Homo sapiens: one gene and its partners. The protein of the gene in region 1 interacts with the protein of each later gene in a pairwise test. Each region holds a gene or a part of one and is shown in the gene's direction. Other genes may lie near its edges.

Evidence for each region.
Region 2: the proteins of ZNF572 (region 1) and BEGAIN interact in binary tests that used the Homo sapiens proteins (3 or more experiments, as listed by UniProt).
Region 3: the proteins of ZNF572 (region 1) and CCDC136 interact in binary tests that used the Homo sapiens proteins (3 or more experiments, as listed by UniProt).
Region 4: the proteins of ZNF572 (region 1) and CEP57L1 interact in binary tests that used the Homo sapiens proteins (3 or more experiments, as listed by UniProt).

What each region holds. Positions count from the first base shown.
Region 1 is NC_000008.11:124,976,273-124,979,902, forward strand, and holds the end of ZNF572 (zinc finger protein 572), read left to right. Parts: intron 1-75; coding exon 76-1,586; 3' UTR 1,587-3,117; downstream 3,118-3,630. UniProt on the Homo sapiens protein: May be involved in transcriptional regulation.
Region 2 is NC_000014.9:100,563,402-100,570,436, reverse strand, and holds part of BEGAIN (brain-enriched guanylate kinase-associated protein), read left to right. Parts: intron 1-644; exon of another isoform or gene 645-1,290; intron 1,291-1,459; exon of another isoform or gene 1,460-1,514; coding exon of another isoform or gene 1,515-1,538; exon of another isoform or gene 1,539-1,746; intron 1,747-1,943; exon of another isoform or gene 1,944-1,971; coding exon of another isoform or gene 1,972-1,992; intron 1,993-2,135; exon of another isoform or gene 2,136-2,497; coding exon 2,498-2,526; intron 2,527-3,353; exon of another isoform or gene 3,354-3,512; intron 3,513-7,035. UniProt on the Homo sapiens protein: May sustain the structure of the postsynaptic density (PSD).
Region 3 is NC_000007.14:128,808,933-128,815,967, forward strand, and holds part of CCDC136 (coiled-coil domain-containing protein 136), read left to right. Parts: intron 1-517; coding exon 518-712; intron 713-1,206; coding exon 1,207-1,434; intron 1,435-2,329; coding exon of another isoform or gene 2,330-2,420; intron 2,421-2,867; coding exon 2,868-3,380; intron 3,381-3,775; coding exon 3,776-3,997; intron 3,998-5,705; coding exon 5,706-5,987; intron 5,988-6,681; coding exon 6,682-6,999; intron 7,000-7,035. UniProt on the Homo sapiens protein: May play a role in acrosome formation in spermatogenesis and in fertilization.
Region 4 is NC_000006.12:109,140,494-109,147,528, forward strand, and holds part of CEP57L1 (centrosomal protein CEP57L1), read left to right. Parts: exon of another isoform or gene 1-182; intron 183-4,725; 5' UTR 4,726-4,728; coding exon 4,729-4,888; intron 4,889-6,264; coding exon 6,265-6,444; intron 6,445-7,035. UniProt on the Homo sapiens protein: Centrosomal protein which may be required for microtubule attachment to centrosomes.

The sequences.
Region 1 (3,630 bases):
CTTCCACTGCAATTTAGAATTTACTTCTCTGGCAGAGATTTGGAATATGGTTAGAATATTTGTTTATTCTTGCAGGAGATACAAGTATGAATAATTTGGAAACTGTTCACCACAATAATTCTAAGGCAGATAAACTTAAAGAGAAACCTTCAGAATGGTCTAAAAGACATAGACCACAACATTATAAGCATGAGGATGCAAAAGAAATGCCACTGACATGGGTTCAAGATGAGATTTGGTGTCATGATTCCTATGAGAGTGATGGCAAGTCAGAGAATTGGGGAAATTTTATAGCTAAAGAGGAGGAAAAACCCAATCACCAGGAATGGGACTCAGGAGAACATACCAATGCCTGTGTCCAGCAGAATTCATCCTTTGTAGACAGACCCTATAAATGTTCCGAATGTTGGAAAAGCTTCAGTAATAGTTCTCATTTGCGTACTCACCAGAGGACCCACTCAGGAGAAAAGCCTTATAAATGCTCTGAGTGTGCAAAATGTTTTTGTAACAGTTCTCACCTGATTCAGCATCTAAGAATGCACACAGGAGAGAAGCCCTACCAGTGTGGTGAATGTGGGAAAAGCTTCAGCAATACCTCCCATCTTATTATCCATGAGAGAACTCACACGGGAGAGAAACCCTACAAATGTCCCGAGTGTGGGAAGAGATTCAGCAGCAGCTCTCACCTTATTCAGCATCACAGATCACATACAGGTGAAAAACCATATGAATGTTCTGTCTGCGGAAAAGGCTTCAGTCACAGCTATGTCCTAATAGAACATCAGAGGACTCACACTGGAGAAAAACCTTATAAGTGCCCTGATTGTGGGAAGAGTTTTAGTCAGAGTTCCAGCCTCATTCGCCACCAGCGGACACACACAGGTGAGAAGCCCTACAAATGTCTTGAGTGTGAAAAAAGCTTTGGTTGTAATTCTACTCTAATAAAACATCAGAGAATACATACAGGAGAAAAGCCTTATCAATGTCCAGAATGTGGGAAGAATTTTAGTCGTAGTTCAAACCTTATTACACACCAGAAAATGCACACAGGAGAGAAATCCTATGAAAGTTCTGAATATGAGGAAAGTTTGGGTCAGAACTGCAATGTGATAGAAGAATGCAGAATCCAGTTAGGAGAGAAACCATATAGATGTTGTGAATGTGGGAAGAGTTTTGGCCTTAGCTCCCATCTCATTAGACATCAGAGAACACATACAGGAGAAAAACCTTACAGATGTTCTGAGTGCTGGAAAACTTTCAGTCAGAGTTCCACCCTGGTGATTCACCAAAGGACACATACAGGAGAGAAACCTTATAAATGTCCTGATTGTGGTGAAAGCTTCAGTCAGAGCTTTAACCTTATCAGGCACCGGAGGACCCACATAGGGGAAAAACCTTACAAATGTACCAGCTGTGAGAAATGCTTCAGCAGAAGTGCCTACCTCAGTCAGCATCGGAAAATTCACGTAGAAAAGCCTTTTGAGTCTCCCGACGTTGGGGATTTTCCTCATGAATGGACTTGGAAAAACTGTTCAGGGGAAATGCCCTTCATCTCTTCATTTTCCGTCTCAAATTCATCTTCCTGAGTCCCAAAGCCTGGTTGGTGATGGTTTTTTCTTCCTTGTTGGACCATGACAATTTAGGTATTCTGTGATTGTTGTGCTATAAAGTTTCTTTGATGTGTTTGTCAAAACATTTGGAAAAAGTCAACCTCCCAGTTTAAAGGATGGGAAGACCCCAATCACCAGGTTATTGGATCTGTCCAGTGAGAGATTCATCCACCAAGGATGAAGAAAGGAGGACTTTTAAAAATTTAAGGTAAGATAGTAATAGCTTCAAAAGAACACATACAGAGTAATCCTGAGAGTAAGCAAAGGAACCATGAGAACCGAAGCTAGAATTGCTATTGAATTACTTTATTTTCTCTTCCCTTATTGGGTAGAGATACATCATTACTGGCCTCAGGGGTTTACCCAAAGAAAGGGTATTTTTGAGCAAATAATGTGATTTCCTGGCTATTTTGTTGGGGGCTTAAGATTTTTTTTTTTCAAATGCATTTTTAGTCACTAAAAATTAACTGTCGTACCATCTAGAACTATACTGTCCAGTACCATAGCCTCTAGCCGTATGTAGCTATTTGTATTAAGATTAATTGAAATTTTAAATCCAGTTCCTCAGTCACACTAGCCACTTTCTAAGTGCTCAGTAGCTCTGTGTGACCAGCGGCTACTGTATTGGATATTATAGAAGGTTCTTTCATTCAAGATCATCATTCTTGACAGACCCATAAATATTTCCTATAAAGACTGTAGAAGTGTGTTCTGGAGGGTTTGCTCTCCAAAAAGAATTGTAATATAGAGTAGAATTGGGATAGAGTATTGAAGACACTGGGTTTAGACATTGGATATTTTAATGATTGTGTGTTCTAATTCATGTGCTGCCAACTGAGTTATCTAGTGATATGACCTCACTGTCTTGACCAAAGCCAGAATAGAAGGCAGGATTCCTGAATTCTATCTTAAAATTTGCAATGAAGAGCCTTTTCCCTAAATTATCCCATTATGTAATTCTTGGTCAGCTCAAGAACTGGGTTCTTTTTCTAATAATTAACTCACTAAATCTGAGCCAGTGTCCAAGGACAGTTTGTCATTAAGGAGTACTGAGACTTCTTAGCTTTGGTACTGACAGTTTTCTTTTGCCTCTTGACATAATTGGTATATGGATCTGATAACTGAGGTCCCATCTTCCCTACTCATTCCTATGGGAATGATGCTTTGGAAATTATTAGATATATCCTATTCCCTTCCTCCCATTTTTTTCCTGCTAGTGCAAAAGGTAGATGAGTAGGAAGATTAGGACTCCTGAGTTGCCCATGATTTCATCTAATTTTTGGATTCAGAATGTATTTTATGAATAATATGCAGAGATGCATATTAGGAATGTGAAGCCAGAATGGGTCAGTTGTAGCTGCTGCAAAGTTCTGTAGCTGATGGTCATTTAATTGCATGGGGGTTATTTTATCTTTCATGATTGTGGTGCACCTGATGCTGGCGGGGTATTTGTGTGTTTTTGTATTGTTATTTGATTACAAAAATAAAGCAAAAACTAACAAATAAAGGTATTGGAGAATTTGGGGGAAATTTTCTGCTTTCAAAAAAGGGGGAAAACATTAGGCATTATTGGCTTTTTATTTTTATTTTTTTCTTATTCATTATTATTATTTTTTTTTTTGAGACGGAGTCTCACTCTGTCGCCCAGGCTGGAGTGCAGTAGTGCGATCTTGGCTCACTGCAAGCTCTGCCTCCCGGGTTCATGCCATTCTCCTGCCTCAGCCTCCCGAGTAGCTGGGACTACAGGTGCCTGCCACCACGCCTAGCTAATTTTTTGTGTTTTTAGTAGAGATGGGGTTTCACCGTGTTAGCCAGGATGGTCTCGATCTCCTGACCTCATGATCCAGCTGCCTTGGCCTCCCAAAGTGTTGGGATTACAGGCGTGAGCCACTGCGCCCGGCCCTTATTAATTGTTTAAGAGATAAGGTCTCACACTGTCACCCAGACTGTAGTGCACTAGCACCATCATAGCTGACTGCACCCTCAGACCCCTGGGCTCAAGGGATCTTCCCATCTCCGC
Region 2 (7,035 bases), on another chromosome or scaffold:
GGAGGATTTGAGCTACAGCAGCATCAAAGCCAGGCTTCAGGCTCTAGAATAGGCTTGAAGGGCAGGGGCTGCCTGTTCCCTGCCTGTCTCTTGCCCTGCCCAGCCCCCACTGCTCCACCAGGGCAGCTCAGCAACCTCCCCTGCCTTTCCCCCCAGTTCCCTTCTGGGGGTGGGGGGAATTCCCATCCAGGCCTTTTAGAAGGGCTGAAACATTCAATGTAAATAATTAATGCTAGATTTTTAAAATTAAATTTTAATACATTCTTATTAATTTTAGACAAACTCCCTGGCAGGTCATTCGCCGTGAGTGATTGAGGTTGGCAACCAGAGACAGCCTTTGGGTGGGAAAGGCTCCTGAGCAGTGGGGTCCAGGCGCAGCTGGGCCCCTTCAGCTGCGGGATCTCCAGCAAGCCTCTTCTCTGTTGGAGCTTTGCTCCCGCATAGGGGGTCCGGGGCTTCCATGGCAGAGCTGTGGTGAGGAGCCGTGGGAAGCGCTATGATGTGTAAGGGGCGGTGGACGTTATTGTTATGACTACCGTGGCCATTCTGCTGAGGGTGGCCTCCCAGGACCGGAGGGGGGCGGAGGGGGTTTTCCTCATTAGCCCCTGGAGAGCAGAGCTTGCTTCCTCTGCTGTCCCCTCTCTGCTTTGTCTGCTGTCCCCTCTCTGCTGGAGAACTTAGCCCAGAGCTAGTGAACGAGTGGGTGTCCGTGGATGGAGGAACACTTGGATTTCTTGGGTTTGGTTTGATCCTGGTTCAGGTCTGACCCTCTGAGTGGACGGCTCCTCCCACCCTGCGCTGGCTCAGCGCAGGCCAAGCCTGCTGGGTGCTGGGGGTGTCCTGGTGAGAACACAGGGCTCCTGCCCGGGAGCTCACAGCCAGGAGGGGAAAGGGCCAGGAAAGACAGGCTCCAGTGCCGTAGGATCCAGGCATGCACTGTCCGTGTTTATTGAGCGCCTGCTGTATGCTGGGACCTAGCATGAGAAGCGCTGTCATGGGGACCCGGAAAGGTGGGCCTGGGGAAGAGAGCGGTGTGGGGGTCGCGCTGGCCGGCGGCAAAGTCTTCCCGGCAAACTCCTTGTCTTGCAGGAGGAGGGTTTATGGAGGGGTCCAGGCTTGTGGTCTTGGACAACTTTTAGAGCGTCTGGGGAGGGGAACCGCCATCCGGGCGCCTTAGGGATCCCTTCCCCTGAAATTCCTTCCCCCACCCCAGCCGATCCGCAGCCCGCGGGTGCGGAAGGGCAGTGGAGCGCCTCGTCCAGCTGCCTCCCCCTTCCCCCCAGCTTTCAGGTGAGGAAACTGAGGCCGGGAGAGCGCCGGAAGGCCGGCCCGAGCACCCGGGAAGTTGGTGGCCGAGCCTGGCCGAGGCCCCGGGGCCGGGCCTTCTAGCTTGGCGCTGCGGCCGGGCTGCGCCCTCGCCCGGCGGGGCGGTGGGGGAGGCGGCGTGGGGCCCGGACCCGAGCGGAGCGCGCTCCCGGCGGACGCGGCGGCGGCGCCCGGCGCGAGGGGCCGGGATGGGCAGTCATCAGTCTTCCCAGGTCTGTCGCGTGGTCCCTGAGCTCGGACCCCTGTCCCCCTTGAGTGCCAGTCACGGCACAGAAAGACGGGCAAAGCCCCGGGGAGCGGCCTCTCCCGGGTGATAGAGAGCCCGCCCGGCGCCCCCAGCTCCACGCAGGAAGTGCGATCCCGCCCGGGCCGCTCGCGGTCCCCGTCGCTCGCCCGCGCCCACAAGGTTAACGGCGGCGGGTGGGTCCCCCTGCCCGGCGCGCGGAGGGGCTGCCCGGCTGAGCGGGGCTGGGCAGGGAGGGTCTCCAAGCCGCGCGCGGGCGGGTCTGCGCAAGCAAGGCAGGGAGCCCCGCCGGCGAGCCGGGCGCTCACGGGTTAATCCCTGGGGCCCGGGAGGGGCAAGCCAGGCCCAAAACCCCAGAATCTGAGGGCAGCGGGTCCCTGATTGAGGAGTCGAGGCTCCAAATGCCATCGCCCTCGGATTGTGTGAGTGTCAGGTTCTGCAATCCTGCACGGCCCCGAATTCCCCAACATTCTCCGACTCGGAGGTTCTGCGATTCCGGGGTTCGGCTTCCTCCGGGAGGGAGCGCGGGGCAGGAAGGGTTAACGGGCGGGGCGGGGGGAGCAGCGGGGCCGCGGCCGCCGGAGAGTTAACGGGGACAGGCCGAGTCCCCCTCCTCCGGGCGAGGCCGAGATCGCCCCTGGCCGGGCCATCCCGGGCCGGCCCCTTCTTCGCCCCGGGGGGCGTAACTCGGTGCGGGGAGCGCGGCGGCCCGGGCGGGCTCACCTGTTACTCGGCCGCGGCCCGGCGCGCCCACTGAGTCACGGGGGCCGCGGCCGGGACTGGAAGCTGGGGACGCGCGGCGCCGGGCTTCCCACGGACGGGGCCCCGCGGGGTTGCCCGGCCGTGCCCGCTGTGCCCGGCTCTGCCCGGCGCGGCCGCGGAGCGCACGCCTCCTGCCTGCTGACCCTCTCGTTTGGTTTCTCGCAGGCCTCTGCCGCAGACATGGAGAAACTCAGGTGAGTGGAGCGTCTCCCGTGCCGCGGCTCGCGGGGGCCGGGTCGGGGGTGAGGGCGCTGGGGAAGGCGGGGGAAGGGGGCTCCACCCGAGCGCATCCCCCAGGGCCCGCGGGCGGCCTCGGCGGGGCTGCGGGCCAGGTGCGTGTGTGTGGTGCGTGTGTGCGCGCCGCGAGGCGCTGGGGAGCCTCGCGCGGGGCTCCTCCGCCGGCCCGGGCCGCTGCGGCGGGGGCTGGGGCTAGCGCCACTGAGGGCCGGGCTGCCCCCTACCCGGGGCCGCCTGGTCCTGTGCGGTCCTCAGCGCCCCTCTGGCTCCCTGCCCTGGACTCTCGCTGGTCCCCGGGGACCCTCCGGGTTCCGTTCGTGCCGTTCCGCACTGCCCCGGCGCTCTCTCCCCCGACCCCACCCCACCCCCAACCACCACCCGCCCCAGCCCCCGGGCTGCCAGTTGCCTGGCTCTGAGCTTTTAAGTGTCCGCCTCTGGGGGGCGGGGGTGGGGGATGGAGTCCTCGCGGCTGGACCAGGCAGCCGCGTCTTGGAGCCATTTTGGGGGAATCCCGCGACAGCTTCTGGGGAGTGTCCCCCGCGGCCTCCCTCCCGGTGCCAAACTTTAAGCCTTGGTAGACTTCACGGGACCACCTGCGCGGCAGGCCTGGGATCAGCCAGTTTGAATATTTGCCACTTCCTCCACGACTTCCCCTGGCACCCTGACCCCTACTTTGGGAACACCCCTCCCGTGTTTTCCTTCCGGAGCCTGAGCCGAGGCGTTGTGTGGGCGGCAGGCCCAGCTCTGGCTGCTGGGTTTCAGCACTGTCTCCCCTGGCCCACAGGGTCTCCGTCCTCGCCACTCCCTCCCGAGGCCAGAATTGGCATCCTGGGGAGGAGGCCGGGTAGAGGAGCATCCCTCCCCCAAGGAGCAGAGCCCAGCCTGGGCCCAGGTCTAGGGCAGAGGGGCCCTGGGCTCTGCCAGCTGACCCTTAGTGCCGTGGGTGAGTGGCTTGGAAACACCCAGGTGGGAGCCTGGGGGCAGGTGGGCTCACACAGAGACCCAGGGTGGACTCTCAGAGCAGGGCCATCTCCTGGGCCATGGAGCTGATGTGCAGCCCCCACTGTGGGTCCCACAGGGACAGGACCAACATGTCTTGTGCTGGGAGGAGGGGTCCAGTCTCTGAGGTGGTTCAATCTCAGACCCCAAATACCTGATACCCATCAGCCAGGCCCACCTTGTCGTGGCCAAGGTCCAGGTGGGGGCGGTGAGGCCCAAAGAGCGACAGCCCTGGCTGTGGTCACACAGATGACCTCAGGCCCAAACTCAGGCTCTGGCCCAGGCCAGGGCCCTTCCCTGGTGCCCCACATTGGCTGTCATTTCACCACCTGGGTTGTACCGCCTGTGGGGGGGAGGAAACACTGCTTAACTCAGCTGAGACTTGAGGAAAAACTTAGCATTCATGGGGTGCCCTGAGGCCAGCCTGGGGGTTCCCTGCGGTGGTTCTCTTTCTCTTTCCCTCCTTCCCTGTGCCCGGCCAAGGCTCTCCGGCACCTATTCCTGTGTGCCAGGCACTGAGGACAGAGGCATGACCCCGCCCGGCTGGGTGCACAGGTAGGCAGGTGTGCCAGGTGGGCGGATCTGCTGCCTGAGCTGCTGATGGCGTCAGCGTTGCTGTCCCAGGCGGGCTGAGGCTTCCCTGGGCTAAGCCATAAAGGCTGGAGGCAGTGGCCAGGGCCTGGGCTCCTGGGCTGCATCGGGCCATGTGGCCTTTCTGGAGTTGCCAGGGGTGGCGTGGGGCAAGGACTCCTAGAACTGGGGAGGGGTCCTGCCCTCCTCTCCCTCTCACCCAATTAGTGTTCTCAGAGTTGCCTGAAGGGCTTTTCCAGAATCTTCCCTTCTGGCCAGTGTCGGGGCTGCCCCAGTGGGTTTCTGTCCTGCATTTGGTGCCTGGGATTCAGAACCAAAAGCCCAGGGGAGTGGAAGGGAAGTTGGTCAGCATGGCTTCCTGCACAGAAGGGCACAGGGTTTGGGGTCCCACAGACCCAGTCACTGACAAAGTCCTGGCCCTGGTTGGGCCTCAGTTTTCTCATCTGTAAAGTGGGTGTCCTAACCACAACCAGGTTGCAGGGATGTTGGGTGCCGTGAGCCCCTGTGGTGGAAGCATCTCTCCTGGGACCTGGCCCAGAGCAGGCCCAGGTAGAGGGTCTCTGGGGAACCTCAGACCACACGGTGGTCACAGTGAAGGGGTCCTGAAGTGTCCACAGGGATGACCCTATGGTCGGTCCTGCCTCCTGGCCCCTGGACTGTGGAGTCTGCACATCACAGGCTGGGTCTGTGGGTCTGGATTGAGCTCTGAGAGTGCTGGTCCTGGCCCCCTCCTCTCCCACACCCCCCAGGGCCTGGAGCCAGGACTGACTTATGGGACAGTCCTGTAAATATTTGCTGAAGAGCAAAAGGACCATGTCACCTGGTGGCACTGTGGCCCTCAATGGCTCCCTTTGGTGGGCAGGTGTACATTGAGGGGTCTCTCTTCCCTGGTCCCTCCCACTGGCTGCCCCCCCATGCTGTCGCCCTGCTTCCGAGTTCCCCACAAGCTGCCACCTTCATGCCCCTGCCTTTGCCCACGCAGTCCCTGCTGTAGAGAATGCCCTTCCCTGCCTTCTTGTCCACATGACAAACTCTGTGTCTTCCCTGTCGCCTTTTCCCTGGGGTTTTCATGACGCTCTTGCCCCTCCCTCCCAAGTGGACTCCAGCCCCCTCTGGGTACCAGCTCTGTGAAAAGACCCGGTTGGCCCTCCAGTGCCGGGGACAGAGGCCCACAACAGATCCTCCTAGGCCAGCGGACAGAATACAGAAGGGGTTTGCCCACAATGCTCTGGGGTCCCAGGTTGTGAACCCTGGCCTGGGGTATTGGGAAGAGCTTCCGGGAAGCAGGGACACTTGAGCCAAGGCATGAAGAATGGGTAGGAGTTTCCAAGGACAGACAGGCCACCCTCCAAGAGGTGCAAAGGCCTGGGGGCTGCCCAGAGCAGATGTGTTTAGGGAAGACAGGTAAGGGGTGGGGAGTGGAGGTCAGTGGGGCTCCCACTGACATCTGGGGTGTCTTCTGTCTTCCCCAGGGCCCCAGATGGGCACCCCAGAGAACAGAGCCGGGGTCTGGCCCCTGGTGTTCTGACAGCCACAGTGCCTGGCAGAGGCTGGCGCACAGTAGGGCTCCCACAGGCCGGGGGGCCACATGGTAGATATGCAGCCACACCATTTGATGGCCTGGCCACCTTGGCTCTTGTCCTTTGACCCTTGCTCAGCCACACTCAGCTATCTTGTCTTCGACTGCTTGGAAAAACTATTCTTGTGACTCTCAAATATTTATAGATATTACCAAGTCCCGGCTGGCTCTCCGTGTGCTCAGAGCCTCTGTGCCTCTAATCCCTCAAATTAATCCCCTCCTCTCCCTCCAAACAGGGTCCCTCCTGCCTGCCTCCTGCAGCGTGCTGCTGGGCAGCCCCTTTTTCTATTTGAGCTTCGGTTCCCTCCTCTGTCAAACAGAGAAGTGGGTCAGTCGCCTCTCATGGCTCCTGGGGTGCCCAGAGCTACTCCTGTTTGGTGTCCACGTTTTCCCCCCAAAATAGAATTTTTCAAAGTCGTGAACTGTGATAGGCCTGCAGAGACATTAATAAATATCCGCACAGTTCAGTGGTTAAGTTTAGAACGACCACCTGGCGACCACCACCTGTGTCAAGGAGTTCAACATGGCCAACCCCCGAGATCCCCCGAGACCCTTCCCCACAGACAGCCCCATCCTGCTCCCGGCCAGCCCCTAAGATCCCCCGAGACCCTTCCCCACAGACAGCCCCATCCTACTCCAAGCAGTCACCGGGACACCGACCTTGTGCTCAGTGGTTCCTTGCTGTCCTCGTGGTTCTGCCACCTGAGAGGGCATCCCCAGCAGAGATGGTTGTATGTTGCCTGCTTTGGGACCTCATACCTGGATTCCTTCAGCCTGTGTTTTGGGGGTGGCTTTTTTTCACCAAAACTATTCTGTTTGTGAGGGTCCCTTGTGGTGGTAGGTGGAGCTACCAGTTGCTGTTGTCATGGTGGCTTCCCTGAAATCCGTTTGTTCCCTGGCAGACTGCCGGGCACTGTGCAGCCTGGGCCACCTTAGGAAACTCCTGTGCGGGTGTCTGGGGATGTGGGCTGCGATTCTGGGTGTGCACCCTCAGTGGAACCTCCGGGGCACAGGGTGCGCATAGGGTCAGCTCTGGAAGATCGGAACAGACTCTTGAAACCGCTTCTCCCCATCACTGTCCCTCCAGCGTTGTTGGGGTGGGCTGCCCTGGTTTGCTGCCCGCTGGGTTTCCTCACCGGCGAAGGCCGTGCGCATTTTCTACCAAGGTGTTTTTCCCATTGATTTGTGGGAGCTCTTCACACTGTCAGTTACACATGCAGCAGCCACACCTCCTGGGGGACGCCGCGTCTCGCTGTTCACACGGTCCTTCTATGAACAAAAGTTCTTAATTTTAATT
Region 3 (7,035 bases), on another chromosome or scaffold:
AACCCAAATTTACCAATAGCGCATACTTTCTAAAGATTTAAAGAGAGAATTAGGAAAGCAAAAATGGGAAAAATTAGGGTGAAATTAAGTCCTTATTTGTAAGGAGTGTAGTTGCATTAAAAAACAACTGGGGTTAATGAGAATAACAGGAGCTAAGAGTTCCCAACAGGGTGGGAATATGGTGTATAAAGGAAAGGGCCGGAGAAGAGGAAGGGGGAAATGAGAAAGGGGCATCGATAGCATTCCCCATCAAACTGCCCCCAGAAAGGAATGGTGGAAGTTTAGAGCAAGGCCAGCCACCAGTCTAGAGCAACCTGCTCTGAAGGAGCAGCCTGCAGGGGATCCCCAATCGGTATCTAAACAGCCAGAATGCATTGTGGCTTGGGGTGACCAGTCCAAGGTGACTGCACAGGGAGAGGATCACAAGAGGCAGGAGAGCGCAGAAGTGCTCTGTTAGCCACCCAAGAAGCTTACCTTACAGAGTAACCACCCCCTCCACACCCGCCCCCACCCACAGTGTGACACACTGCTGTCCAGACTGACAGAATTGCAGGAAAAGTACAAGGCCAGCCAGAAGGAGATGGGGCAGCTGCAGATGGAGCAGTGTGAGCTCCTGGAGGATCAGAGGAGGATGCAGGAGGAGCAGGGCCAGCTGCAGGAAGAGCTGCACAGGCTCACACTGCCACTGCCAAAGAGTGGCCTCTTACTCAAGGTAACTCTGCCACAGGCAGCTGCTAACTGCGGGGAAGCTGCTCTGAGAAGCTTCCCTGTGTGACTAGGGAAAAATAAAAGGGTGGGGATTGAACTTTTTCTCTTACCAACCACTCCTTACTTTCTCACCACTCTCCCCAAACCAAAAAGCTCCATAGAGCCAATTAGAGTTTTTCTTATAAGGGCTTTAAATCTTAAAATACCTTTTATACTCAGGAATCTGTGCAGCAGTTTATATTTAGGTATTTAGTCCATCTGGAGAAAATGCACCTGAAGCCACTTTGTAAACTACAAAATATATCCCAACACAAGAGACCACTGCCACTTTTAGCAGGTCTCCATAGAAGGGCTCCCCCGTCCCCAGATGGGCTCTGTGAAGTCAACCCTGAGATTCTTCAGGGAATTGTTCACAACGGGGATGAGGCACCAAGGAGGCATCAGACTTCCTGTGTGACCACCACCATCCCTTGCCTCCTTCCTTCTACTCCGCCTCAGAGTCAGGAGCTACTCACCAAGTTAGAAGACCTGTGTGAGCTGCAGCTGCTCTACCAAGGCATGCAGGAGGAACAGAAGAAGCTGATACAGAACCAAGACTGTGTATTAAAAGAACAATTAGAGATCCACGAAGAGCTGCGACGTTTCAAAGAGTCTCATTTCCAGGAAGTGTTGGAGAATCCCGATGATTCCAAATTGGCTAAGTCCTCCAAATGTAATCGAAACAAGGTAACCATAGCAAGAGGTAGGGAGACAGTTCTCCTGAGCACAACAGCATGGCAGAGAGAGTGGGCACCGCCGAAGGGTCAGAGTTGGGAAGGCGTGTTTGGCCAGGGGTAAGGATAAGGCAAAAGCCCTGCCTTTCACCAGCTGTGACCACTCACAGGCTCCATTAAGAGGTGGCTTTTAGATACGGCCTGAGGACCTCACCTAGATGCCATTATCCTTTATCACACTGATATTCACAGTGCCCAGTTGAAGCACTATGAGCACTCAGGGCAGAGCTGGGATGACCAGAAGTCTGTCATCAGATCATTCGACTCATTCCCAGTAAGATGTATAATATCAGTTTGGTGTTTGTTTGGATTCCTTTGGACTGACTCTAAATGTCATCTTTTTCTTGAGTGGAAAAGTACACTTCTCAGTTATCAAAATCTATCACCTTTGGTGTTCTCTATGAGGCAAATTTGGGGCCTTTCATTTCCAAGAGAAGAATTCCTAGCATATGGGGTTCTTAGTACTGACCACACTATCTTCATTGGAACTTTGGTGGCAGTAACAGAGCAAGGTCACAGGGGTTAGACCAGAAAATTGATGCCTCTCAAGTACCAGCAAGAGGTCATTCAGATGAGGTGACACAGGTGGAGATCACCATACAATTCTCTTCAGGGTTGGGGGATAAAGTTGTTCTGAGGTCTCAGCGTGGGCAAGGAGGGGCAGGTAGACAGTTTCGGTTTAGGCCAAATCTATTCATTCAGATCTTATTCTGAACAAGGAGAACCAGGGAGTAGCAGAAGTCAACACTGTGAGGCTGGATCATATTCCAGGGGCATCAGATGTCCAGGCTGGAGGCCTGGGTAACACAGCTGGGAACCAGGTATAAAATATTTCCTTAACTGATCAGATCTCATCCTGGACATCAGCAGCCAAGAAGCCAGGCCCAACATGCCCAGAGGCCAGATTCAGAATTGGGGCAGGAGATACAGGAACTAATAGTAAGACTTTGATTCCAATTCTTCATATTGCCGCATTCAAGGCCGGGGCTGATTTTAGAACTAGGGGTGGGCGAGGGGACTGAGCCTGAAGGTCAGGATAACAGGTATACCTGACTGAGAAGAGGGTGTGGTAGGGAGCCAGGGTGTTCTGGAAACCCACTCGGCACTGCTCCAAGGAGACAGGGATGTACCAAAGTGCAGAAACCAGCCGAAATGGGAGCCCGGAAATCATGGAGTATCTGCCCTGGGGAGATTTTCCCAAATGAGCAAGAAACTGATACATGCCAGTTACCTATAGGCTAAGTCAGAGACATAGGCCGGGGTGAGGTGGAAATGTAGGTGTGCCATTCTCTAAGGTGTGCTCTCAGACATCTGTACCAGGAGAGGTGCAGCTGGAAGGACTGAAGTGTCAGAGTAATGATACTGTCTCCCCACCCCTGCCCCCAGCAATCCAAGCTGCTCATGGAGCAGATGCAGGCCCTGCAGGTGATGTATGACGCCGGTCAGGCGAAGCAGGAGCTCTTGCAGCAAGAGCAAGGGAGGCTCCTAGAGGAGCGGAAGAGGCTGCAGGCAGACTTGCAGCTCTGCCTGGAAGAAATGCAGCTGCTTCAAGTCCAGTCCCCTTCTATAAAAATGAGCCTTGAGTCCTACGGGAAGAGCTATGGTAGCATGGTCCCCAGCAATGAGAACTGTCGCAAGACTTATGATACCACTGTGGATGACAATGAGAGCTATTACAAGAGTTACACCAGCACCCAGACCAGCAGCAAGAGCTTTCTCAAGAGCTATGACAGCAGCACCAGTGCCAGTGAGGCCTATGGGAAGAGTTACTGCACTACCAGCAACAGCAGCATTACCTATAAGAAGAGTTACGGCAGCACCAGTAGCTCTGACACCTGCCAGAAGAGTTTTGTCAGCAGCTGCACTGACGAGGAACCTGCTGAGCCTGAAGACATGGAGGTAATGGTTGCCAGGTGACAGGTCAGGCAGGGGACGATGGACTCTTGTCTTTTTAAGAGATACATCGCCAGGGGAAGGGGCAAGAAGTGTGGGAATGGGGTCAGAACTGACCTGGGGAACTATTGGAAGTAAGCGAAGCCCTCTACCCATGGCAGCCTGGTCTCCCGCTCAGCCCTCTCATAGAGAGAATCCCCCATCTGGACAGAGGCCCATAAGATTCAGTCCGTTTCCTCACCACAGCCACGATGCTCTTTATGGGGGTAAATATAGTAATCCCCCGCGGGCATCTCTGGATCCTGGTGGCCATTGTTTGGTATCCAGGGAAGGGCCCAGCAGAGTAGGGCGGAGCTTAGGTGCTCCTCAGGGTGCTATTGTTGCTCCCCCACCCCCCGCAGCGCTTTGAGGAAATGGTTGTGAAAGTGCTGATCAAGCTGCAGGCGGTGCAGGCCATGTACCAGATAAGCCAGGAGGAACACAGCCAGCTGCAAGAGCAGATGGAAAAGTTACTGGCCAAGCAGAAAGACCTGAAGGAAGAGCTGGATGCCTGTGAAAGGGAGTTCAAGGAGTGCATGGAATGCCTTGAAAAGCCCATGGCCCCCCAGAACGACAAGAATGAGGTAACCACTGTCAGGGAGGCAGGGTTTCCTCTGGCAGCCCCTGGAGCCATAGAGGTCATGGCCACTTCATAGAGGCTAAAGAGAGGGACAAAGCAGGGAGAATATGCACCTCAGAGGCTGGGCAGTCTGCTCCATCCCTGATGACATTTCCCAAGTGCCCGTGGAGCTGGGGTTTACTAGTCATCAGGACTTCTCTCATCGAATGATTTCTCTCTTTCTCCCTTTGCCACTTCTGTTCTCTTTTGCTTTGTGTTCTAGACCACTTCTGTAGAACTGTATTTTTGCATTTGCCAATCTTCTTTCATCATTTTGTGTGCATTTGCCTTGTCTCCCGGTGCACCAACTAGGAGCACCAACTAGATTGCAAGCAGCTCAAGGACAGGGACATGTCTCCTTTTGGATCGCTCACAATGCCAAGAAGAGTGCTCTGCACCCCCTAGGAATGGGACAGAAGTCTTGTCTCTGGCCAGGGGTTCACGGTCCAGTGGGGGTCTCTTTGTATACACACGGGAGAGATTCAGAGAGCAGCGAACACATGGGTCCAGATTGGCTAGTATTGGTACCTACTGAGGGGATGGTTGTGTGCTGCCATCAGCCAAGGAAGACAAAACCCGAGATCAGGGAGCAGGATGTGACTTGCCTCTGTTTCCAGGGTGAGGTGCAGGAGCCCAGTACACACTTCAGGAGTGTACAACACAGTTCTTTAAGTAATTGTTCCTGTTAGAGAGATGGGTTGGATGAAGTAGGAGTTCCCATAAAAAGAATTCTAGGCCAGGTGCGGTGGCTCACCCCTGTAATCTCAGCACTTTGGGAGGCCGAGGCGGGTGGATCACTTGAGGTCAGGAGTTTGAGACCAGCCTGGCCAACTTGGAGAAACCCCATCTCTACTAAAAATACACAAAATTAGCTGGGCATGGTGGCGCATGCCTGTAATGCCAGCTACTCAAGAGGCTGAGGCAGGAAAACCGCTTGAATCCAGGAGGCGGAGGTTGCGGTGAGCCAAGATCATGCCATTGCACTCCAGCCTGGGCAACAAGAGTGAAACTCTTGTCTCAAAAAAAAGAATTATATAATAAATCCCTGAGGTTCAGAATTGGTAGCAGCCCTATTGTTATTCCCCAGTCACAGTAGAAAACACCATTTAAATCATTGTTTTGACCTTCTTTTTTTTTTTTGAGACAGAGTCTTGCTCTGTCACCAGGCTGGAGTGCAGTGGCACGATCTCAGCTTCCTGCAACCTCCGCCTCCTGGGTTCAAGTGATTCTCCTGTTTCAGCTTCCCAAGTTTCTGGGACTACAGGCGCGCTCCAATAAGCCCAGCGAATGTTTGTATTTTTAGTAGACATGGGGTTTCACCATGTTGGCCAGGCTGGTCTCGAACTCCTGACCTCAAGTGATCTGCCCACCTCAGCCTCTTGAAGTGCTGGGATTACACTGGATGGCAAGTGAGCCGCTGCGCCCTGCCGTTTTTTTCATCTTATTAGATGGACATCATCAGGTGCCTCAAGTTAGGAGAAGCTATTTGTAAAACTATTTGAGAGGCTCATTTTCCACCGTTGAATATTTTCTTTATTGTCTACTTCCTATGGGCTTTAACAGGGAGATTTCTGAGACAGTGACCCCCAAGCAGGGCTGAGTTTGGTTGCGTGGTCAGCCAACTGGTTGCATAACCAGCCAACTCTGGGTAACTGGCCCTCCACTACCAACAGATCAAAGAACTGCAGACCAAGCTGCGGGAGCTGCAGCTGCAATACCAGGCTAGCATGGATGAGCAGGGGCGGCTTCTGGTAGTGCAGGAGCAGCTGGAGGGGCAGCTGCAGTGCTGCCAGGAGGAGCTCCGCCAGCTCAGGGAGAAGAGGCCTTCTGTTGTCAAAGAAGCCCGGGGGAAGAATGCTAATAAGAACATGAACAAGAATGCCAATGGGGTTAAAATGAAAAAGGTGACCAAGCCATGCTCGGATACTTCTGAGAGCGACCTTGAGACCAGAAAGGTGAGTAGTAACCTTGGTAGCCAGATAAGCAGAAAGGAGGAGGAGATCCTGGGAAGAAGCATTGCCTCCACAACCCTTTCAACCAGGCAAGGGATTTGTAGAGAAGCTTCTGGGATCTCTGAAGTGTCTACAGTGGTTCCCATCTTAATGGAAAGTGGGTGCTCCCTTTTCCTGTGAAGTTATGGGGAGAGTGGAACACAGACAACTCACATCGGGAGGTGCAGCCCCAAAGGACCACAGCCCCTAGGCTGGACAACTCCTTCAGTTTGCCCAGCCCCATTTGTTGGGGCTCCTGTTCTTCCTGGGTTACATGCCCAAGAGAAGAACCAAATAGATGAAGAGGGAGGAATTTGTTCAAAGTAGTTATGTACTAATAAGTGAAAGAGGATTGGGTAAAAGAAGAGTCACTGTAGGGGTGGGAAGCAACAATTTAGGTGCAGAGCCCAAGACTCTTTAGTTGTGGTAGCTGTTTGAAATGGCTTAATGGCCAACAGACATAGTGGCCCTGAGAGGTGAGGTGTGATGCCCTCTACATATGCTCAGGGGATTGGCTCACAGTCCCAGAGCACCGGGCCACACCCTTGCACTCTGACATGCTGGAAGTCATGTTTCCTGGAGCTAGTACAGCATTGTCATGAGATTAGGAGCTTCACAGGTAACGCAGCCGCCATCCTGCCCTACTCCCACCCCACAGAGTCTGGAGGTAGTGCTGTACTACAAGGCCAGCCAGAGGAAATTAGATGGACTAGCAAAAGAGGAGGAAAAGAAAGAGGAGATGGAGGAGGAAAAAAAGCAAGTGAAAGAGGAAGCAAAGGAGCAGTGTGGGGATGAGCTAGTTGCTGAGCCAGCAGATCCTGAGGAAGCTAAATCCACAGAAGATCAGGAGGAAAATGAAGAGGACAAAGAGGAAGAGGAGAAGGAAGAAGACAGTGAAGAGGAGGAGGATGACGCCGACTCTTCCCTTGAAAGTCCCGAAGAAAATAACCCCCTCAGACTTTCCGAGAGCAAAAAGGTAACCAGAGCCAAAGCCTAGATCAAGTGGGAAGTG
Region 4 (7,035 bases), on another chromosome or scaffold:
AGTTCAAGTGATTCTCCTGCCTCAGCCACCCGAGTAGCTGGGTCTACAGGTGTGCGCCACCATGCCTGGCTAATTTTTGTATTTTTAAGAGAGACGGGGTTTCACCATGCTGGCCAGGCTGGTCTCGAACTCCTGACCTCGTGATCCGCCTGCCTCAGCCCCTCAAAGTGCTAGGATTAGAGGTGAGCCACCGCGCCCGGCCTTATATGTTGTATTAATTTTAACAGAGCTTTTGTATCTTTTCCTTTATTTTTCTGTTACTTTTAAACATAGAATATCTTACCTATTCTAAGGTTATTTAATATTCACTGATTTCTTAAAATAATTTTTAGAGTTTTTTATTTATTTATTTATTTAGATGGATTCTCGCTCTGTTGCCCAGGCTGGAGTGCAGCGGTGCGATCTCGGCTCACTGCAAGCTCCGCCTCCCGGGTTGACGCCATTCTCCTGCCTCAGCCTCCTGAGTAGCTGGGACTACGGGCGCCCACCACCACACCCGGCTAATTTTTTGTGTTTTTAGTAGAGATGAGGTTTCACCATGTTGGCCAAGATGGTCTCGATCTCCTGACCTCGTAATCCGCCCGCCTCGGCCTCCCAAAGTGCTGGGATTACAGACATGAGCCACCGCGCCCAGCTGCGTTTTCTTTATTTGACTCTGTAGCTATCTGAAATTTGTATTGATGTATGGGGCAAGATGAAGCCTTAAATGGATTTTTTCCCCATTTTTTTCTTTTGTTTTTGAGACACAGTCTCACATTGTTGCCTGTGCTAGTGTGTAGTGGCGCAATCTCGGCTCACTGCAGCCTCCACCTCCCAGGTTCAAGTGATTCTTCTGCCTCAGCCTCCCAAGTAGCTAGGATTACAGGCATCCACCACCACGCCTGGCTAATTTTTTGTATTTTTAGTAGTGACAGGGTTTCACTGTTGGCCAGGTTGGTCTCGAACTCCTGACCTCATGATCCGCCCACCTCTCCCTCCCAAAGTGTTTCCCCAATTTTTCTAACATCATTTATTGGATGATCAACAAATGAATAGCTGAATCCCATTGAAGTATTTATGTTACATTCGTGTATTTACTAGTTTCTATTGACCAGTTTTTATTGTCACATCTTAACATTTTGGTGATTTTATATTATAAATAATACATTATATAATTATTATGGGATATCTATAAGTAAGTTCCACCACCACAAATTATCTTATTCAGTTATAATAAGATAATAATAAGATATAATAAGTTATAGTACTTCCTAAAGTACTATACATTAAAAAATAAAAGAGTTAGTCCAGCCTTACTGTGTTTGCTCTTAAGGTAAGTTAGCATAGATGCATACATAAAGAAAAAAACAGATCAAAGAAACTGAGCTGTTGATCCTTCTTCAGTTTCTCTAAGGAAAAATCCAAACTTGGAAGAAGTAGCAGTTACAGCAAACAGAGATTCCTTTATTTCAAAAGTCTTCTATAGTATCTCTGACTGCCCCCTAATGTCGTCTCCCTAGCAGTCCTATGGAATAAGTGTTTTCCTCTATAAAAAGTAAAAATGCTTTGCAGTAAAGTGTTTGTGTCTAGAGCATTCTTTTTAGGGGGATAGTTTTTTTATGCAATGGGTTCTTAGTTGCAGCCAATTGGGGTATCTTAATTTTATAAACCATAAAAACAGTGAGTAATTTCCCTGGTTGTTCACAAGCTGTCAAGAATGGTTTCAGGAAAACCAACCCAAATGCCCATCAATGATAGACTAGATAAAGAAAATGTGGTACATATATTCCATGGAATACTATGCAGCCATAAAAAGGAATGAGATCATGTCCTTGGCAGAGACATGGATGGAGCTGGAAGCCATCATCCTTGGCAACCTAACACAGGAACAGAAAACCAAACACTGCATGTTCTCACTCATAAGTGGGAGTTGAACATTGAGAACACCTGGACACAGAGAGGGGAACAACATACACCAGGGCCTGTGGGTGGTAAGGGGAGGGAACTTAGAGGACGAGTCAATAGGTGCAGCAAACTAATATGGCACATGTATACCTATGTAACAAACCTGCACGTTCTGCACATGTATTCCATTTTTTGTTTGTTTGTTGTTAGAATAAATAAAGAAAAAATAAATAAAAATTTTAAGAAAAAAAAAAAAGGTACAACTTGAGTTTCTCAGGCTTGATACAAATGAGGTTCACATTTTATAGCCTTTTGCCCTTACTTGAAGACACCTATAAAATGTTCCATAAGAATTCCTGAGGTCTTTTCAGTTACCAACAGCTAGCTAAGTCTGGTATCAGAAATACCGGAATCCTAGAGATTGTGATTTAGGTACTTCTCTGTATTTTCAGAAATTTTTCCCTAGAAATATTTCTCATATGTGCCCATGAATGTATCCCTTCCATCTGTGCTCTCTCTGTTTCTCTGTTGCTCTCTCGCTTTCTCACTCTTGTTCACTGTCTCTCTTGCTCTCTCTCTCTCTCTCTCTCTCTCTCTCTCTCTCTCTCTCTCTCTCTCTCTCTCTCTCACTGAATACTACTAACTGATGCACCAGAAAGGGGCCAAAACTGTGTTAGCAATCTGACTCCCCCTCCATTGTCATGTAACATCTTACACAAAGCAGGGAAGCTAATGCCTTGATATTTTATAGAGATATTGGTGAAACATTTCTCAGTTTTTATTTAAACTCTCTCTCTTTTTAGAACCCACATATGAGTCCATGGCACTAGGTCAGAGATAAATTAGAATGACCACCATCATAGTCTACTCAGAATCACTCCTCCTTTCCTTAGTCATTTAAGGCTTTTATTTTGGATCAAGCCTTTTGTAGTTACTTCACCTTCTTTCAGAGTGAGTTTTTCTCCCAGGATGCTTCAGTGCTTTATATAAATAAGCTTCCAGTAGGCTTATGCACTTGTTTACAACACAGGACCAGATTATAAAGGTTAAGCTGAGATCCCATTACAATGAGAATCTCTGAGCTCTGTGTCACAACATAACTTGTCCTCTCATCTCTTTACTGTTTTCTTTCTTTTTCTTCATCTTGTTTTTATCCTATCAGTGGATTATTCTGCTTGTGCCCACTTTAATATGTGTCTACACATTTAATTTAAATAAACTGTAGTCTACTTTTTAACTTACTGGCAATCTTCTAACTAGTCATTATTTCATATACATTAAAAACCTCAAATTTGGACCAGTTTTTTAACTGGTACAAAATCCGGTTTGTGAAATAATATTATACTTAGGTCAGAGGAAGCAGAGACCTCCCAAGGACTTCAGTGTGTAGTGACAAATAGCAAAATTTCATTCTTTATGTCATTGGAGAAACCCACCCGGAGCTGAAAACTAAGTCAGATTTCTTGAGTAGCTCCAGTATTCTTGGGATAGCTTTAACAACTTACCTCTCTCTGAAGATGTACAACCATCTTCAGGATTTACGTACTTTAGGGCCTTACCTCCACTTTATAGTGAGCCAGCTGTGACTAATGTTGATCTCTTGTTTTTTGAGGGAACAACAACTTAGATAGATGCGGTATCCCATGGGGAGCAGGCAGTGTCTGAGATAGCTGGTACTAATCACAATAGCAAAATATGGTTACCTTGCAAGAACAAAAAGCATCAAGTATCTTAGCAAACCTTAGGCTTTATAGCCTCTAATTTAGACCAATCAGAATGTTCTAGGAGATTGCCAATCATGGCAATGGCTAAAGTAGAAAATTCTAGGAAGTGAAGTGTGCCTTCTGCCCTTCCAGAAAATACTATCCTGGGAAGTGCCTGCCTTTGCCTTGTGAATTGAGGAGGTGGTGAAATCATGGAAAATGTACAACTCTCAAAAATCAAAATAGGCTAATGTTATAGTGTAATTCTTGGATTTCCATTTTGAAGCAAGCTTTCTTGCTTAAAATTCTTCCAGTGAGTTATTTTTTTGTAAGCAGTTATCACCTTATGTGATTATGAATTAATTTAATTAACATTGACTGGAATCTATTAAAAAATAGAATACATTTCTAAAATATTTAAATTGCAGAAAGGAAAATAAAATTATTTGGAAATTTTAGACCAAAAATTACCTGCTTAAATGGTTAAAAGGGCTCTCTTACCAAAACAAAAACAACAACAAAATAAAAACCAGACTAACAAAACTAAGTAGTCTAGATTCTTCAGATTTGGAAACTTTCTAATCTAGATGATTAAAATGCTAATACATTAAGCAGAGGTGTGTCTTATTCAAAGGTTAAATTCCGATATTTCATATATCCAAAATTACCCTTGAAAATCCCTTAGGAAGCCATACATTAGAATTCAACAATCAGTATTAGAGAATCAGTGTATATTGTTGGTTTGTGTTTAAAAGCTCAGTTATCTTTTAGAATATGTACTTTCTCTTTAAATCCTAGAGTCACACTGCTTATAGAGAAGTGCTCAGACTATGATAGGTATATGGGATTTATGGGTAACTGAGAAACCAGTAAATTCAAATCACTCATGTGATGCTTACTCCAGGGTATATGATTATTGAAAATCAGGCAGAATTGTCAGTACTGCTTACACAAGAAATAGTAACTTTTCTTTCTTTTATTGCCAAGCCTATTAGAGTTGAATTTATAATTAAGTTCATAAAGATACAACTCCACAGTATATGATTATGTTTTTAAAGTTTCACCTGAATTTTTGTATAATGCATTTACCCTTAAAATAGGAAAGCATGATACTATATCATTCCTTTATTCTCTACAGATAATGGATTCTGAATTAATGCATAGTATAGTAGGAAGCTATCATAAACCTCCAGAAAGAGTATTTGTTCCCTCATTCACCCAGAATGAACCATCTCAGAATTGCCATCCTGCAAACTTAGAAGTTACCTCTCCTAAGATACTTCATAGCCCAAATAGCCAAGGTAATGCTGATATAAAATTTGAAGAATGGTAAAAACATGCTATAAAAAACTTTTCATATTTATGTGGAATACAATATGATTGCATATTTAATCTTAACAAAACTCCTAACTTTGATTCTGTTGCTAAAAGTTTCTATGAACTTAGACAAATTACTTGACATTTTTTATTTTGGCTTCTTCAGCCATAAAATGAAGATTAATACAACCAGCTGGACACATATCACAGAGTTATCATAAAAACATCATTTGAAAACAGGAAAATACTCTTTGAAGAATAAAAGGTCAGATTTGGAATACTAAACTAGATGATTAGAATGTTAGTGAATTAAATGGAATTGCATCTTATTCAAGAATTAGATTCAGAAATTACATATATCCAAAATTATTCTTGAAAATATTTTAGGAAGCCAGTATATCAGAGTAACTACAAAATACTAGTATTTTAACGTTTAAAATAGAAATGTAGGAGGATCTTAAAATTGAATTAGGAAAACATTTTATTACTCCAGGCATATTTTAAGCTGTGCAAATTCTTTTCTGAGATGCTGATATCACCTACTTTTAAAATCTTCTATAATAATGGTTGCTGTTAATAAATAAACTAGTTTTGTGGAATAAACTATAAGAAATAATAATGCAAATCAATGTGCCAGCTACAGATATCATGTAAAGAGGAATAAATATAATTTATTTATCTCATTTATAAAAACAAAATGGTAATCTCTAGCAAGCATCTTTCTAATTTGATATAAACTATATGACAGTTAAAACTCTGAACTTATCTGAAGCATGAAGATATTAATATAGTTGAATATAAGTCACAGTAGTATAGAATACTATTATCTTTCAGGTCTGACATCAGGTAAACCATTAGGTTATAATTATCCTGGTTCTTAATACTGCATCATGGACAAAGAAACAGTAAATATGTGTGATTTGACTAAAACGGAATACCTCAAGAACTGAGAAAAAAAGCCTATAACTTTAAACCTAAATTGCCATGTTAATTAGTAGAAATTATATTTTAATGTTCTTATTCATATTTATACTCTTATGCTCCCCAGACTGTACATTGTCTTTAAGTCCTTTCATTTGTAAATATTTTATTAAATTAAAATTGTGGTTATTACCTTTCTCAGTCTTAGAAACCACTAAATACAATAATAGATATAGTGTTTTTACAAGATATATTAGAGAGAAAATGTGCGCCTCTTCAAAGTGTTAGTCATTATTTTTCATTTTTTGAAGAATATGCATTACTTGTACATTTTTCTGGCTCAGTAACAAAAATATACTGCTTATTTTTCTTATGTTACTTTGATTGTAAGTGTTCAGAAACTTTCACTTAAAATATCAACAAAATTTTTTTTCAACAGCTCTTATTTTAGCCTTAAAAACTCTTCAGGAAAAAATTCATCGTTTAGAGCTGGAGAGAACACAAGCTGAAGATAACCTGAACATTCTTTCCAGAGAAGCAGCACAGTATAAGAAGGCCTTAGAGAATGAAACAAATGAGAGAAATCTGGCACACCAGGAGCTGATAAAGCAGAAAAAAGGTAAGAAATGCAGTAGTTCTCAGAAACCGGGGGTTACTGGAGTTTACAGTTCAAAAATAATAAACCTAGTCTAAGCCGATGTACTCAGATATCTTTATTCTTATATATATTCAAACTTCATGACTTTGTTCTCAGACCTTTTGATATTTGTGAGAAAAAGATACAGTTTTGAACTTACCTCTATCATATCTTACTTATCATAATTCATAAATTCTAGAAATTAAAGGAAAAATTAAGATTTTAGACAAGTTGTGTTTAAAAATTAGAATATTTTCAGAATAGCCAACAAACTCCAATTTAACCCGTAATTGAATATTTATTTTTTATTTTATTTATTTGTATTTGCAGTTAACACTAAACTTTAGAATTTGAAATACAGAACAACACTAGTAATTAAACAATGTAAAACCAATAAAAATGAATACAAAAGAATTTTATTTAATGAGAGGAAAGCAAGGTTAATTAGAAGACATAGGCAAATGGGGGAGGCTTCTGTGGAAATTATGAAAAATTTTAGAAATTTAGAACATAAGTCTTTTAAGTAATTTCACTTCAAAACTTAAGACTTTCTTTTTCCTTTTTACACTACAC